Regions from separate parts of the Homo sapiens genome. Here region 1 is linked to region 2. Evidence: fine-mapped expression QTL. Tissue or cell type: whole blood. Region 2 holds a variant in brackets; the other region holds the start of a gene. All regions are shown on one strand. Distances are from middle to middle.

Region 1 (8,168 bases), 42 kb before region 2:
CTTATGTTAAAATATAACGCTAATAGGACAAAGCATTGTCCTGTTGGCTGAGAAGGCTGTCACAGCCATGTTAGCTTCTGGTTTTATCCTCAGGCTAGGCCTGCTCTGCTCCCAGTCATGGGACTGGGATTTAAGGAGTTGACAGATGGTCTCCAAGCCATGCCTGGTTGTCTGCAAGTCTAAAAGGAGCTAATAACCAGTGGTGGGCTTCTGTATTCAGGCCTACCATTCCACCAGCAGCCCAAATGACCCCCGCTCAACACAGGCAAGACCACAGGCCCTGTGCTTGGCACAGTTCCTGCAAATGCAGAACAGCCCTCTTTATTTCAGTCTCCAGGCTTCTGGCTGGCAAGGAACACTGCCCGGCTGTGAAGCATTTTATAGGATTATAACGGGCTATGCCGAAGGCAAGTTCTGAAAGACACTTTGTGCCGTTTCTTTGAGTGAAGCTGCCTGTTAGAGCAGTGTTGTTCCTAAGCCCGTAAACACACACACAGGCAGAATGGGGAGCTCTGGGCTCCTGGGGCCACTTAGCTTGGCGGCATTGCAGGACTGGACCAGCTTCCCTCAACTGTGACACTAACCTTAGGGATATGCTTGGAGGCCCTCCTGCAGGGGTGCCTGTTTTCTGACAGTCTTTGTTCACGGACACCCCCAGATAGTGTCTCAGGCAGATTGCCTAAAACCCCAATCTGTCAATGGTGGAGCAGTGCATTACATATGGGGAAGGTGCTGAAGTCAGGGACCAAGGTGGAAATTGCATGAGGTCAGAAATACTCCTGAAATAGCTAATCCTGACCTTAACCTATATACTGATGGAAGTTAAAAAAAAATACTCCTGAAAAATTTGTTAAATGCCTCAAGGACCATATACATGGCTTGTATGCACCCCAAATTGCTGGCTTGAGTTTATAGGCTTTGTTGTACCAAAAATATCTGTATTTAAACACCAGAATCCTATTCTGGATGGTGAGACATTCGTGCTATAAGAAGCTTGGAAGAATCAGACCACCCAAGAGAATTCCAGATTCCCATCTTTCCTTTTGTAGCTTATGCTTTTTTATAGCACTATTTAAATTGTTACAGGCCATTAGTAATCTCTCTGCCTCTGTCTGTCTCTCTTTGCCTAGCATGTATAGTGGAAAAGAGGTATGTTTGTCATATATATGTTGTGTAGCCCTGTGTATTTATTGATTTTTATGGCTCCAGTATATTTTAAGGAAAGCAAAGAAATGTTTTAAGAGAAGATGGATACGGCAGCCTTCTCATCAATCAATATGACTGTTCATTGCTCTGCAATAGTTGTGCTTCAACCTAAGTTGCACTTTAACATTTCTTCGGAGGCCAGGCACAGTGGCTTATGCTTGTAATCCTAGCGCTTTGGGAGGCCGAGGTGGGTGGATCACTTGAGCTCAGGAATTCAAGACCAGCCTGAGCAACATGGTGAAACCTCATCTCTACAAAAAATATAAAAATTAGCTGGGCGTGGTGACGTGTGCCTGTAGTCCCAGCTACTTGAGGGGCTGAGGCGGGAGGATTGCTTGAGACCAGGAGGTTGAGGCTGCAGTGAGCCAAGATTGTGCCACTGCACTCCAGCCTGGGCAACAAAGTGAGACCTGTCTCAAAAAAATAAAATAAACATATTTCTTAGGGTTTGTTTACTGTTACACTGGATTTATGGTATGTCAGACTCCCTGCTTGGCCCTAAGGATACTGCAATGAGCAACCCAGTCCCAGGGCTATCAGACGTCGCCAGGGTGACTATTTTCTTCACCAAGTGCTGTAAGTATATTTTCCAACTTGAGAACACGGCCCAGCAAGCTCTTCTGGGAGTCAAAGCCAGTGGCTTTGATGGCAAATGTGTTCTAGTTGAGATAGTGGACTGTGAGGGCCAGAAGAGCAGGCAGAGAAAGAGGAATAAGAAGTGGCTCGGGTACTTGGGCACAGGTTCTTGGTGGCCAGACAAGCCCTGAGTGACGCATGTCACTGCCTCTGGCCCTGCCTTTGGCTGCATAGTTAATCAGGGGCTACTTGGAGATGAGGTTACTCTCACACCCCCACCAAGCTTGGCTAAGCTTTTGGAGCACTTGTGTGAGCTCCCCATCAGCACAGCTCAGGCTAAAAGGATAAAATTGTGTTCAGGAATACAAATAGGAAAAATCAGTGGTTCTGAGGTGCTCTTTCCTGCCCCATACCTCTTCTGAGACAGTTTTCTTCCTATTGCTTCAGGTTATCTATCGAGGGAAAAAAACTCAGGTGCTCTCTTCAATTTCAGTTGGAACCTCCACCCATTCAGGAGCTTCATTTACATGTGTGGTAATAACAGGCTGGTTACACAGGGCCCAATTCTTTCTGCCTCCAAAGGCAGTTTGTCTGCACTAGCTGGGTAGGAAAGTAAGTGGATTTAGTGTGAGGGTGTGGATTTGATACCTGGGATGAAGAGCTATGTATTATGAGGTGTCCTGCCTGAGAAGTAGGAACTGCTGGGTTCTGACCTCAGCTAGAAGCAAAGAGCACGCAAACAGGGACTGGATATCACCATTCCCACTATCCCCTGCATCCCCAGGAAGTAAAAACAAAAGATAGTGTCTCCATAGATCACCACCTGATGTAGTCATGACTTTCCACATGAGGAGGAAAAAGATTCAACAGTACAGTCTACAAAATAACTTTTGAGAGATGATCATTTTAGGGCTGGGCATGGTGGCTTACACCTGTAATCCCAGCACTTTGGGTGGTTGAGGCAGGTGGATTGCTTGAGCTCAGGGGTTGGAGACCAGCCTGGGCAAACATGGCAAAACCCTGTCTCTACAAAAATACAAAAATTAGCTGGGCACACTGGTCCAGGCCTGTAGTCCCAGCTACTTGGGAGGCTGAGGTGGAAAGATCACTTGAGCCCAGGAGGAGAAGGTTGCAGTGAGCCAAGATCATGCCACTACACTCCAGCCTGGGCAACAAAGCAAGACCCTATCTCAAAAAAAAAAAAAAGAAAGAAAATATGATAATTATAATATTTTAAAAAACTATAATTTCCCAAGAAGTGCCATGAATGAAGGTATTTTTCTTTTTTTCTCTTGAGACAGGGTCTCACTCTGTCACCAGGCTAGAGTGCAGTGGTGCAACCATAGCTCACCACAGCCTTGAACTCTTGGGCTCAGGAATCCTCCCACCTCAACCTCGGGATTAGCTGAGACTACAGGCATGCACTACCATACCTGGCTAATTTTTAAATTTTTTTGTAGAGGCAGGGTCTTGCTATGTTGCTTAGGCTGGTCTTGAACTGTTGGCCTCAAGCCACACTGCTGCCTTGGCCTTCCAAAGTGTTGGGATTACAGGTGTGAGCCACTCTACCTAGCCATCTTTTCTTTTTTCTTTTCTTTTCTTTTCTTTTTCCTTTCTTCCTTCCTCTATTTCTTTCTTTTTTTCTTTTCTTTTTTATTTTTTCTCAGGGTCTCTGTCACCCAGGCTGGAGTGCAGTGGTATGATCTTGGCTCACTGCAACTTCTGCCTCCCAGGCTCAAGTGATCCTCCCACCTCAGCCTCTGGAGTAGTTGGGATTACAGGTGTGCACCACCATCCCTGGCTAATTTTTTGTATTTTTTTTGTAGACACAGGGTTTCACTGCTGCCCAGGCTGTATTTTTCTTATAAAAAATTTTAAAACATGAGCTATAAGCTTAAGTCCCTTTTGTTCACTATCTTTAATTCTTTAAACCCAGGTGCCTCCCTTCAGCCACAGGGGAACTGGTAAAAGCTTGCTGTGGATTCTTGTAGACAGTGTTCAATGCTATTTACCCACAAATATGTCTTTATAGAAAATATATGATATTCTTTGGTAAACTTGTATTTTTTTTTAACACAAATGGTATTGTATTATGCTTAGTCTGCAATTATTTTTAAACTGAGTCTAATACATTGGAGATCTTTCCATGCCACACCCATAGACCCATCTCCTTTTTCACTGCTGCTAAGCGGTATTACACAGTGAAGAAAGTTTATTTAAGCACTCCCTATTGATGGATATATTACCATTGTTTCCAGTTATTTTTTATTTTTTACTGCCCCAGACAGGGCTGCTGCAAACAACCTTAAGATCAATCGCCTTCTTGGGCATTTATAATGTCATTGTTTCTCCAAAAAGGATCCAGAAAGGTGTGGTAGTGCCAGGTCATCCATGCACAGCTTTATACTTGAAGGACACTCTGTCAGATTGCCCTCGAGTGTCAGGCAGCCTCTGAATATGCTAGTCAAATTTAAAAGTTGGTGCAAAGTGGGAAAGGTCTCGAGGGAATTTTCCGGGGGTGGTGGAAATGTTTCGTATACCGACTGTGGAGGTGGTTATACGGGTGTTTACATTTGTCAGAACTCAACAAACGGTACTCTTAAAATGGGTGCATTTTGCCATTTGTAGATTATATTCCACTGACATTCATTTAAAAAACCAAACAAAAACAAAACAAAACAAAAAAAACGTGCAGTGGCCTGGGAACAGGGTAAGAGAGAACACCACCCCTTTCTAATGTGGGCTTTTAAAACGCTCGCTTTTCCCCCCAGGCTCCTTCCTGCCTCCAGGTGTCACTACAGCCTCCTTTCTCCCCGTTGCCCGGTTTCGCCCCAGCCTCCTTTCTACCAGCAGCCTTTCACCCGGAGAGTGCCAAAGAGCCCGAAAGGAGCTATCATGGGGTCTGCCTGCCCCGCAATCGCGGCCCACGCTCTGCGGGGGCGCCCGGAGTCGAATACCAGCGGGGAGAGAGAGGTCCCTCTCCACCCGCGGGACCGCCCCACGCCCCTCGCAGCCCCAGGAGGTGTCCGCGCTGCGGCACGTGGGCCCTCCCGGCAGCGTGGGGCGGTGCCGAGCCGGCGGCCCGCCCCCTCCCCACCCATCAAGGCGTGGCTGGCACGGTCCCGCCCACTCGGCTCCGGAGCCCAGTCGAGTCCTGCCCGGCTAGAAGCCGGCTGTCGGTCTCCGTGTCGCCGCCGCCGCCCGGCATCGTGGAGCTGGGGCCCCCTTTTGCCTGGGAGTTTTGTAGTCGCCTAGGGTCAGCGGTGACATCCCAAAGGGCAGGCCCGGCAGCCGCCATGGTGGCCAAGGATTACCCCTTCTACCTCACGGTCAAGAGAGCGAACTGCAGCCTGGAGCTACCCCCGGCCAGCGGTCCGGCCAAGGACGCTGAGGTAGGGCCGCGCCCTGCACCTGGACCTCTATGGGTCATCTGCCTGTCTCGTCTGCCTCCATCTCCCATTCTCGGCGCCCGTCCAGTGTCACTGTCTCTGTTTCCATCTCTCACTCTCCGTGTGTGCCACTTTCTCTCTCTACATCTCTCCCACAGTCTTCTTTGTGTCTCCCCGTCGCCATCTCTCACCCTGTCTCCTTTTCTCTCGCTTTTTCTCTGTGGACCAAGCACTAGCTGCCTCCTCTCTCCCTGTCCCTCTACCTGCCGGTCTGGGAGCAACTGCCTCCTTGCCTTTGCAGGGCTCTCAGACTGTCCATCTTCTGTCTGGACTCTCAGAGGGACTTTCTCCTACTGTCAGCAAGCCCCAGTGTCAGGGAAGTGTCAGCAAGCCCCAGTGTCGCTACCCTTTAAGCGAGTTTTTTTTGCCTGGGTTGTGAGAGCAGAGGGACGTACCAGCCCTCTCACCTGTCAGACTTGGCCTTGCAGCCCTTTGGCAGCAAAAACAGGACACAGCGCCTCTGCCTATCACCTGTGGCCAGTGAGGGTCATTCAGCCGGGGGGCTGGGGCTAAATGAGTAAATTGGAGTGTCTCCCACATGGATCTTGAAAATGAATTAAAGTCCTTAGGGTCAATGGAAAGCTGCCTTGGAACATTGGAAACATTTCTCTTTCTGGGAACTTTCCTGTGCCTTGCGGGCGATGTGAAGGAGTGCTCCCAGGTTATGTTTAGTCTGCCTTTTCCTCTTGCGTGTTATTTCTCTGGCACATAGCTCACTGGCCTTAAAGGTTGGGTTCAGCTGGAGGAGAAAGCATCCCTCTCTTTGAGGGTCTTAGGGAATACAGTCGCTTTCGCTAGATTACAGCTTTGCTGTGGTCAAGCTGCGGTGGAACCCACAGGACCCAGCTAGTCATTGCCGCTCATGCGTGTATCTGGGAGCTTTCCACTCTCCCACACCTCACTCTGCGAACATCAAACATCACCACCACCACTGGGGAAAGGCTGAAGGCAGGTGTGCATCCGGCCTTGTCACAGCATTCTTGAGGTTCCACCCACTCGCCTTCCTTGGGTCTGCTCAGCTGTATGCACTTGGCTCACTGAATCATGTATATTCGGGAGCACACCATCAAAGATTCATTTCCTCTAGCAAGAGCTGCTCCAGGCTGACAGGACTCCAAGCAGTCTCTGGTTGTATTCAGCTTTCTATACGCTGAGCACAAACTAACTTCTCCCTCACTCAAACCCAACCCTACACTCCAGCTCAGTCGAATATTATCACAAAGAGTTTTTGTTGCCAGCAGCTGTGAAAGTGTGATGGCCCTAGTGGCATTTGCATAGAATTCAGGTTGGTCAGGCCTGGAATGGATATAATATTTTTTCAGTGGGAACTTCCTAATTTAATCAACATAGGAGCAGCGCAATTGGTGCCCACTCAAACTCCACTTGTAAGGAAGAAAGGCATAACCAATAAATTAATAAATTGAAGTGGGCCAAAGAAAAGAATAGTGAGGATAGCTGAGGACTCTAACCAGTCCCTTCCTACTATTACTTAGTCCTGTGTTTTTGAGTAGTTTAGCTAAAGGCTTAGGTAAAACTTGCCTGCTTAATTTCATTTTATTCTTATACATAGAATATAGATATGTCTATATATCACAAATATGAAACTTATCACATGTCAAATATTAATTTTCTTCATTGGTAGCTGGATCTAGACTATAAAATATGACTTATTTTCCTCGTATGGGGATATCCTGATGTGAGAAATAAGGAAGGGGTTGGAATAGTTTTGGAAATAGTTGGTAAATATTTTTCAGATATCACTATTGGGGTTTTTGTTTTTTAGTGTTTGATTTAAACACTAAATCAAGTATGCTTTATACACTTTGAGGCAGAGATATCTTTTAGCTTCATCGATGAGCATATCACTTCCTGATAATGGAAATTGGCAAAATTGGAAAAAGAAACCTAAGTGAGTTTAGTGGGTAGTTTTCTGGTTTCCTTATCAGCGCAAAAGGCAGCCAACCCTTGTAGGCCTAGCTTCTCCATAAGCAGTTAACTAAAATATATTTTCCACCAGTAGGTGTCGTCAGTATTCATAAATTAAAAAATAGCATTCGCTTGTCAGCCTTTTGAAAAACATGATTATATAATTGTTTATAAGCTAGGCATTGACTGTTAATTCCTCTGAAAGTATTTTTTTAAGAGTGATTGTTTTCTTTGTGGAAAGAATGTGGTTATAATAAAAAGAAAAATAGATCTATCCAGAGGCCTTTCTAGGAAAACAGGACTTGTTGACCTTCAAAGGCCGTTGCAACAGAGCACCTGTGCCCTTTAAACATTTAATGGCCGTGTGTAATGGCTGTTCCTTCCGAATTTGCCTTGGGTAGGACAGTGCACACAGCATGGCACTGGGAAGTGCCTTCTAGCATTGACTCCTATCCTTGCAGCAAGTGTACTGGGGAAAATCACTTAGGAAAAGGCTCCTGGGGAACAGGCAAGTGGCATTGATGTGCATTTGATACCGTACACTGAGTAAAAAAATATGCAAAAATAAGCATTCTCTTAAAAGCAAATAAAATTTCTACTCAAGATTTAAGTGATTTGTAATTTTTTATTTGTGGTAGTTTCCAGTGAAAGCAAAAAATGATATTTTTAAAATGTATTTTTATTTTCTTTAAAAGATCTATTTTAAGCTTTTGAAAATATTCTACAGGGATTATAATATTGCATGTCTGTTAGTATAATACTGCCTCTTAATCTGCTATTTCTTATGACATGGGGGTTTGAATTGGTTGGCAAATGTTTAATTTTAATATCCATAATCAGTGAGGTCCTGCTGGCTGTAATCATTAATTGTGAAATCTAAGGAGCTTAGTTCATGGCTCTAGAATTTCACAGAAAAATGTGATATGATACGAGCATTAAGTTTATTTCTTCTGATCTTTGATGCAGCTTTGTTCAGTTTATCTGTTTTTGTATTTATTGGTCATCTACTTC
Region 2 (8,201 bases):
CTCCAAAACTCTGCAAGATAGGATTCATCACCACTTATAGGGAGAGATCTGAAAGTTTAAAATTGTACCCAAGGTCACACAGCTGGTAAGTGCCAGAGCTGGGATTCCGTAGGGTGTTCAGAGTGCCTCTCCTGCCGTAGGCTTATCACAAAAAGTCAAAGTTTGGTCATAATAAAGCCTGAAGTTTGGCAGGATTTAAAAATAGTCACCAGACTTTTGAGTTGGAGCATCCCACCTCACTGCTGTTCACCTTCTGTGGCAGGGAGAGTCATCATTTCCATTTCAGCTTGTGGAATATCTTGTCATTAACATTCTCATGCAAAAGCCATTTTATGGTGCCCAATGAAGATGGTTGAGCTACTGCCCCAAGCCTCTGGAAGCCTTCCTAATTTTGGACTTGCACTATGCAAATTGTATAATATTTTCTCTACACCTAAGCCAAATATTTTCTTCAGCTTTTCATTCATTCTACTCAGAATATCTCCAAGCTACAGAAGGGTTTCTTGTTGTACTGGGTCTTTGAGGTTTGACATTTATTGATTATGAATTAATTGGGTGCCCTTTTACCATGGTTTTAATGTGCATCAATCTGAATCAGATTGTAAATATGTGGTTTTATGTTTATTGCACCATTTCTAACTCAGTGTTCATTGTCTTTCATGTTCGTCAACTGACCGTGTTTCTTCTTAGTTAATATTTCTTCATTAAAGAAAGTCTGGAAAATAAATGTAGAGAATTAAAAGATGAAAATAAAAATCAGCCAGGTGCAGTGGCTCACACCTGTAATTCCATCACTTTGTGAGGCTGAAACAAGAGGATTGCTTGAGGCCAGGAGTTCAAGACTAGCCTGGGCAATATAGTAAGGCCCTGTCCCTACAAAAAAAAATAAAATAAAATCAAAAAATTAAAAATAAATAAAATTTTAAAAAGAAAACAAAAATTATCCGTAGTCCCACCATCCAGGGGTGTAAACCTTGTTAACATTTTGTTGTATTTCAAATTGGGATCTTTCTTCTCTCACTTAACTCTGCATGTGAGGCTCTCTCCTTATCATTAAGCTTTTCTCAAAAAGAATGTTTCTTAACAACTGTTTAAGGTTCCCTTTTATTGTTGCAGAGTAATTTGTTTAATCCCTATTGTAGAACATTTTAGGCTGTTTCCAGATCTTTTATAAACAACAGTGTCCTGCTGAGGGCTTTTCTTTCCCTAGGAGTTATCCTAATGGAAGTCCCTCTAGGAGCCATTTGGCCCAGGTAGTTCAGAAAGATGTGTCTGCTGTTTGCTAATTAATGAAAGCACGTATAAACAAGCACTAATAGTGGCAGTGTGGTCTGTGGTATGACAATGATAGGTAACTACCATTCCTGCTGACCGAGTGCCAGGGACTTGGCCAAGCCTCTTGTGTACTTTATCTTATCCAATCCTCACTACAACTTTGTGAGGTACTTATTATTATGCACCTTTTAGAGATGAGGAAACTGAGACCCAGAGAGATGAAAGGTCTCTCAGCCATTGAATCAACTTGAAGCCATGCCTGTTTTACTCCAAAGCCTATGTTCTTCACCCAAATCCATGTTTTGGAGTCAAACAATTGCACTCAGTTCCTATTCCAACACTTAACTTGTGCCACTCACTTACCACTCTGCTACTCAAATTACTCATCCTCTCCTAGGATTAGCATGAGGGTCAAATGTGACAGAGACCACACAGCTGGGAAGTGTTACTTCTCACTTAACATTAATTTCTGTAATGGAGCCTCATAGGAGACTCCTCCAGGATGCTGTTGGTTAACATTTTCCTGTCCTGGCCATTATTGCTGTACATTTTGGTTTAACCCACCGCAGTGGCAACATAGGAGAGTTTTTTCCTCTTACAGTCCCACCCCAACCTCCAATCCCTGATAATAAACCATCTGCTACAAAATAGCAATATGGTTAGCATGGTAAGTGTGGAGAATTTCCTTGGCTTGAATACTTTATTGGAGCATGTTATCTGTGGCTGTGGAAAATGGTTTTTGGAAAAGGGCAAGGGAGGACTCCGCTGAACAGGCGGCATTAACAAATCAGATCTGTCCCATCATGTCTACCTGCTGGGTTTACATTTCCTCTGACACGTGTAAAGCGCACATGCCACCCCCGTCCCCCAACCCCCGGCAGACAGTCTGTTTTGCATCTGCAGCATCTTTTCCACATATCCAGCTTGGGCATAAACTTGAGCACCATTTCCTCAATCTGCATTATCTCTGTTTTATGGTCATTGTTGTTTTAGCTGCCAGCAATTATGAGATTGCAGTTTTTGACTCATTTGCTAGGCCAGATTCCCTCATGGAAACTCTTGCTTGTCCTGGAATATTTTTCACTCCGGTCCCAGCATCCCCACACCCAGGGAGATCTATGTATGTGCTTCTGTTTTTATGTGGTCCTGCCCAAGGCCAGGTCCCTCACTTTGAGGTGGGCCTCTTCTAGTTACCGTGGACTGGCGTTTCTCACCCCAGGAACATTTGGCAATGTCTGGAGGTGTTTTGGTTGTCATAACTGGGCTGGCTGTGCTGCTGGCATCTGGTGGTTAGAGGGCAAAGATGATGCGAAATATCCTACAATGCACAGGAGAGCCTCCCACAATAAAGAATCTCTAGTCCAAAATGTTGTGGTGGCCAGGTTGAGAAACTTTCTACAGGCCAAGAAGTAAACTACAGTTCATTTATTTGGGCACATGTACCCCGCTACACTATGAATCTTATCCTAGGGCAATTAGGGTAGGATATTGGTTAAATATTGGGGCAGGGAGGTTGGCCTGAAATAGACCAGACTTGGATTGTCATTCTGACAGTCACCTTACCACCGGGTTTTAAATAATAAAGCACCATTCATTAGCTGTGTGACCTTCAGCAAAGTGTCACCTTCTCTGAGCCTCAAGTTTCCTTGTCTGTAAAGGGGACAGAATCCTTACCTCTCAGATAAGCAGGGCTCTAAAGCTCCCCTCACAGTGCCCAGCACATAGCAAGCATAACATTTAATCATTAAGCAAAAGTTGTTGAGGTCTTACTATATCAGTTGCTGATGAATCCATCAGTGAATAGAGGAGGTAGATATGCCTGCCTTCAAGGAGTTTACCTTCTATTGGAAGGAAATAGACATGAAAGAAACAAACAAACCTATAAATACAGCACATGTTGAATATAAAAAAAAAAGAGAAGGGCAGAGGGTGTGTAGATGGACAGTGGCAGGGATGCTGATAGGGATGTGGCTGTTCTTCTCTCTAAAGAGGCATCCTCTTGGAGTTTTTTTCTTCTAGTAGTAGTTGCCTGTTCCTCCCTCAACTCTAGTTCTCTCATGTAGTTTTTCCCAGTGGTACTGATGATGGGTTCAGGGGTAGCTCATGGTATGTGGTCAGTGCTGTTATGAACACCTGCCCATCACCCATGTGCTGTCCCCAGACCATACCAGCTGCTGCCCCTTTTCCCCGGGGCCAGACGGCTGCTGACCACTCACTGGTTTGGTATTCTTTTATTATTATTCTTTTTTATAGAGACAGGGTCTTGCTACATTGCCCAGGCTGGTTTCAAACTCCTGGCCTCAGGTAATCCTCCCATCTCAGCCTGTCAAATTGCTAGACTTACAGGTGTCAGTAACCTCACCTGGACAAATGGTTGGCATTCTTTATTCCTCCCTTGGGATTCTTCTTTCAACATCCAGTCCCTTCTGAGTGGAGTAAGAAAAAATGTTTCTTTTAATCCAGCCTAATTAAAGGTGTAAATTTGAAATTTGATTGGTCAGATATCAGCCATTATTCCTAAAACTGAGCAAATGTATTCTCTCTCTTTCCTTAAGTAGATTTATATTCCTAGAAGGCAGGAGCTGGATCCCATCTCATTGAAACTTCCCCAAAATGCATGTCTTGCATGTAAACAGTAGATGCAGTCCCCAAAGTAGAAAGAGCTCAGGCTCTGTTGGAACCAGATCTGGTTTTGAATCTTAGCCTCCCTCAACCTCAGTTTCCTCCTCAGTAGAATGGGAATAAACCCCCAACTTGCAGGGTGGTTGTGAGAATCAGAGAGAATATATCAGAAGTGCTACGTGTAGGCAAAGCGCATAAAAGACCCTCTGTGATATCCCCCATAGTACCCTGAGCCCAGCAATCACTAGGGAAACGCAAAGCAAGAAATTCATAGTGGTAGAGCTCACCTAGTACAGCTTACTGCTCTCTTTTTTCCCATGCCGCAGCAGAAGACAATCTCCAACTCTCTGGGAAATTTTTAAATAAATTAATTAAAATATGCTCAATCTTACCTTCAAAACACAAAACTGAAATTAAGGTATAGTTGTTTAACCTATCAGATTGATAATAATACCTTGTTGATGAGAGTGTGAGCAAAGTGTACTATTATGTACCTATCTGAGGAATATAAAGTTGAATAGCCTATTTGGAGGTCAACTTAGTGGTACATCTCAAACATTAAAATGTTCATACTTCTTAGACCAAGGAATTCCACTTAAGGAATTCCTGCCTTTTAGAAGTATCAGCACAAATACACAAAGCATGTTCACTGAGGCACTTTTTGTAATAGCCAGACACTGGAAACAATTTTAATGTCCATCAGTTGTGGATTGATTAAATCAATAGGTCTGTCCAGACTATGGGAGGGATACTAATTCTGCAGCCA[T/C]TAAAAAGAATACGTGAATTTGAGGTAATGGAAATGTTTTGGAACTAAATAGAGATGGTAGTTGTACAACCTTGTGAATATACTAAATAGCACTGAATTGTTCACTAAAAAATGGTTAATTGTAGGCTGGGCACAGTGGCTCATGCCTGTAATCCCAGCAGTTTGGGAGGCTGAGGCGGGAGGATCTCTTGAGACCAGAAGTTCAAGACCAACCTGGGCAACACAGCAAGACCCCATGTCTACTAAATCAAAAATACAAAAGTTAGCCAGGCACTTGCTTAGCGGTGGCACTCATCTATAATCTCAGCTACTCAAGAGATTGAGGTGGAAGCATCACTTGAGCCCATGAGTTTGAGGTTACAGTGAGATATGGTTGCACCACTGCACTCCAGTATGGGCAACAGAGCAAGACCCATCTCCAAAAAAACAACAACGAAAAAGTAATTGAGTTATGTAAATTTCACCTCAAGATACTGTCAAGTAGAAAGAGAAAACATTCTCGGCCAGGCGCGGAGGCTCACGCCTGTAATCCCAGCACTTCGGGAGGCCAAGGCAGGCGGATCACGAGGTCAGGAGATCGAGACCAACATGGTGAAACCCCATCTCTACTAAAAATACAAAAAAATTAGCTGGGCCTGGTGGCGGGCTCCTGTAGTCCCAGCTACTTGGGAGGCTGAGGCAGGAGAATGGTGTGAACCCAATAGGCAGAGCTTGCAGTGAGCCGAGATCGTGCCACTGCACTCCAGCCTGGGCGACAGAGCGAGACTCCATCTCAAAAAAAAAAAAAAAAAAAAATTCAGTTTTCTATGAATGTTAACAAATGCATGGAAAAAGTTTGGAAAGAGCTAGAACAAACTTAACAGTTGTTACTTCTAGGAGATAGACTTGGGGAAATGAGGGCATTTGTACTTAATTTTATATACTTTTGTAATGTATGAGAATTTAAAGTTAGCATACATTATTTTCAAACTGGTAGGGGGAGTTTAAAGTTAGCCAAGGACTGAAAATATAACAGGATAGGAGGTTGATTCTCTCAAGTGAAAGTGGAAACTTTCATTTTGAAGTTTTTGTGTGTGTTTCCTTTCTTTCTGCTCTTTAATTCTTAACTCAGCTGCCATCAGAACTGCAAACTGGGTTGAGCAAGTTACTTAATGACTCACTGCACTTGTTTTGACCTTTTAATGCTTGTGGCTAATTGATTCCGAGTGCTGGCGATCTGTGTGCATTTAGTTCCTGGTTACTGTTTACAAGGGACTGTTTTTAAGAGATCACAAGGATTTGTAAGATACCATTAGTGAACTGTGTATTTGGTGCAAGTACTTTCTTGACCTGCATAGGGCTGGTCCAGCCATCATGAGCTCATTAGTGAGCCCAGGAGCACCCCCACTACTTGTGCCAGCCTAAGGGGCTTGTGTTGCTACTTGCAGAGTGAGCGTCCTGCTTCCAGAAGGTTGTGGTAATACCCTGAAGCTCTTTGGAAGTTTCTTTTTACATTTTTCATTTATTCTTACATATATATCTATATATATTTTTTTAATTTAGAACTGAAATGAGGTCTTGCTACGTTGCCCAGAGTGGTCTCGAACTCCTCAGCTCAAGCCATCCGCCTGCCTTGGCTTCCCGAAGAACTGGGATTACAGACATGAGCCACCAAGCCCCGCCTCATTTTCTATTTTTTTTTTTTTCCTTTAGAGGGAGTCTTGCTCTGTCGCCCAGGCTGGAGTACAGTGGCGCAATCTCAGCTTACTACAATCTCCACTTCACGGGTTCAAGCAATTCTTCTGCCTCAGCTTCCCAAGTAGCTGGGATTACAGGCACCTACCATCACGTCCAGCTAATTTTTTTTGTATTTTTAATAAAGACAGGGTTTCACCATGTTGTTCAGGCTGGTCTTGAACTCCTGACCTCAGGTGATCCGCCCGCCTCAGCCTCCCAAAGTGCTGGGATTACAGGCGTGAGCCACCACGCCCGGCCATTTTAGACACTTTGGGAGGCCGAGGCGGGCGGATCACGAGGTCAGGAGATGGAGACCACCCTGGCTAACACAGTGAAACCCCGTCTTTTCTAAAAATACAAAAAATTAGCCGGGCGTGGTGGCAGGTGCCTGTAGTCCCAGCTACTTGGGAGGCTGAGGCAGGAGAATGGTGTGAACCCGGGAGGCGGAGCTTGCAGTGAGCTGAGACTGCGCCACTGCACACCAGCCTGGGCGACAGAGCAAGACTCCATCTCAAAACAAAAAAAAAAGGCTAAAAATATATAAAGGAGGACAGAAATCACTCATAATGTCAACATGAAACAACAATAGAATTTTGTGATGTTCCCTTTATATCTTTGCTCATGTGCATTTTTTGCATAACTATAAAATGTTCACATATAGATTTTTAATCCTGATTTTATTTTAGGCTACATAGAAGGGGTGTTTACATTTTAAATTATCTCTGAATTGTCTAGATAATATTCCATCCAGCAGGTAATTATAACTTTTTTTTTTTTCTGAGACGGAGTCTCACTCTTGTCGCCCAGACTGGAGTGCAGTGGCACGATCTTGGCTCACTGCAATCTCCGCCTCCTGGGTTCAAGCGATTCTCCTGCCTCAGCCTCCTGAGTAGCTGGGATTACAGGCACATGCCACCACGCCCCGGCTAATTTTTGTACTTTTAGTAGAGACGGGGTTTCACCATGTTGGCCAGGCTGGTGTCAAACTGCTGACCTCAGGTGACCCACCCACCTCGGCTTCCCAAAGTGCTGGGATTACAGGCGTGAGCCACTGTGCCCAGCCACTTACAACTTATTTAACAATGCCCTTATGTTGAATAGTTCCTTTTAAAATTTTTCTTTACTTTCTGGAATTTTATTGTTGAATCTCAAAATAACTGGGAACTACCTTAGAATGCCTTTGTGATGAAGGCTCATATGTCATAAGCAAATTCAATTCCTGACCTCAGGAAGTTTCTAGTTAAGAGCAGGTGACCAATAATTATAATCAAGTATGATCATTGCTATATCAGAAGTATGTCTGAATTGCTCTGGGGGAGGAGGATGGGAGAATGTTGGTGAAGACTTCTTAGAGGAGGTGCTGTTTGAGTTACATCCCGAGGGCAGTTAAGAGTTAGCCAGCTATGGCCGGACACAGTGGCTCATGCCTGTAATTCCAGCACTTCGGGAGGCCGAGGCGGGCGGATCACGAGGTCAGGAAATCGAGAGCATCCTGGCTAACATGGTGAAACCCTGTCTCTACTGAAAATACAAAAAATTAGCCGGGCGTGGTGGCGGGCGCCTGTAGGCCCAGCTACTCAGGAGGCTGAAGCAAGAGAGTGGCGTGAACCCAGGAGGCGGGGCTTGCAGTGAGCCGAGATCGCACCACTGTACTCCAGCCTGGGCGACAGAGCAAGACTCTGTCTCAAAAAAAAAAAAAAAAAAAAAAGCCAGCTATGAAGTGATGGAAACACATTCCAGGAAGAGAAGATTGTTTGAAGGGAGTACAGAGGGATGGCAAAGCATGACATATTTAGGGAATGACAGATAGCCTAGTATGGTT

Evidence for each region. PIP is the estimated chance that this variant, and not a neighbour inherited with it, causes the effect.
Region 1: it holds the start of ARHGEF3, and the variant in region 2 is fine-mapped to the expression of ARHGEF3 in whole blood (INTERVAL, PIP 0.98).

The regions. Positions count from the first base shown.
Region 1 is chr3:56,798,709-56,806,876 of GRCh38, reverse strand. ARHGEF3 (Rho guanine nucleotide exchange factor 3) reads left to right here and starts at 4,928. Exons shown (of 10, transcript NM_019555.3): 1 at 4,928-5,174. The coding sequence starts at 5,079. RefSeq lists a silencer at 4,759-4,928 and an enhancer at 7,293-7,342.
Region 2 is chr3:56,756,432-56,764,632 of GRCh38, reverse strand. All of the region lies in intron 2 of ARHGEF3 (Rho guanine nucleotide exchange factor 3), which reads left to right. Among named protein-coding and RNA genes, the nearest start is that of ARHGEF3, 41 kb to the left of the region's middle. RefSeq lists an enhancer at 804-1,681. The variant T/C (reference allele first, on the strand shown) is at 4,664.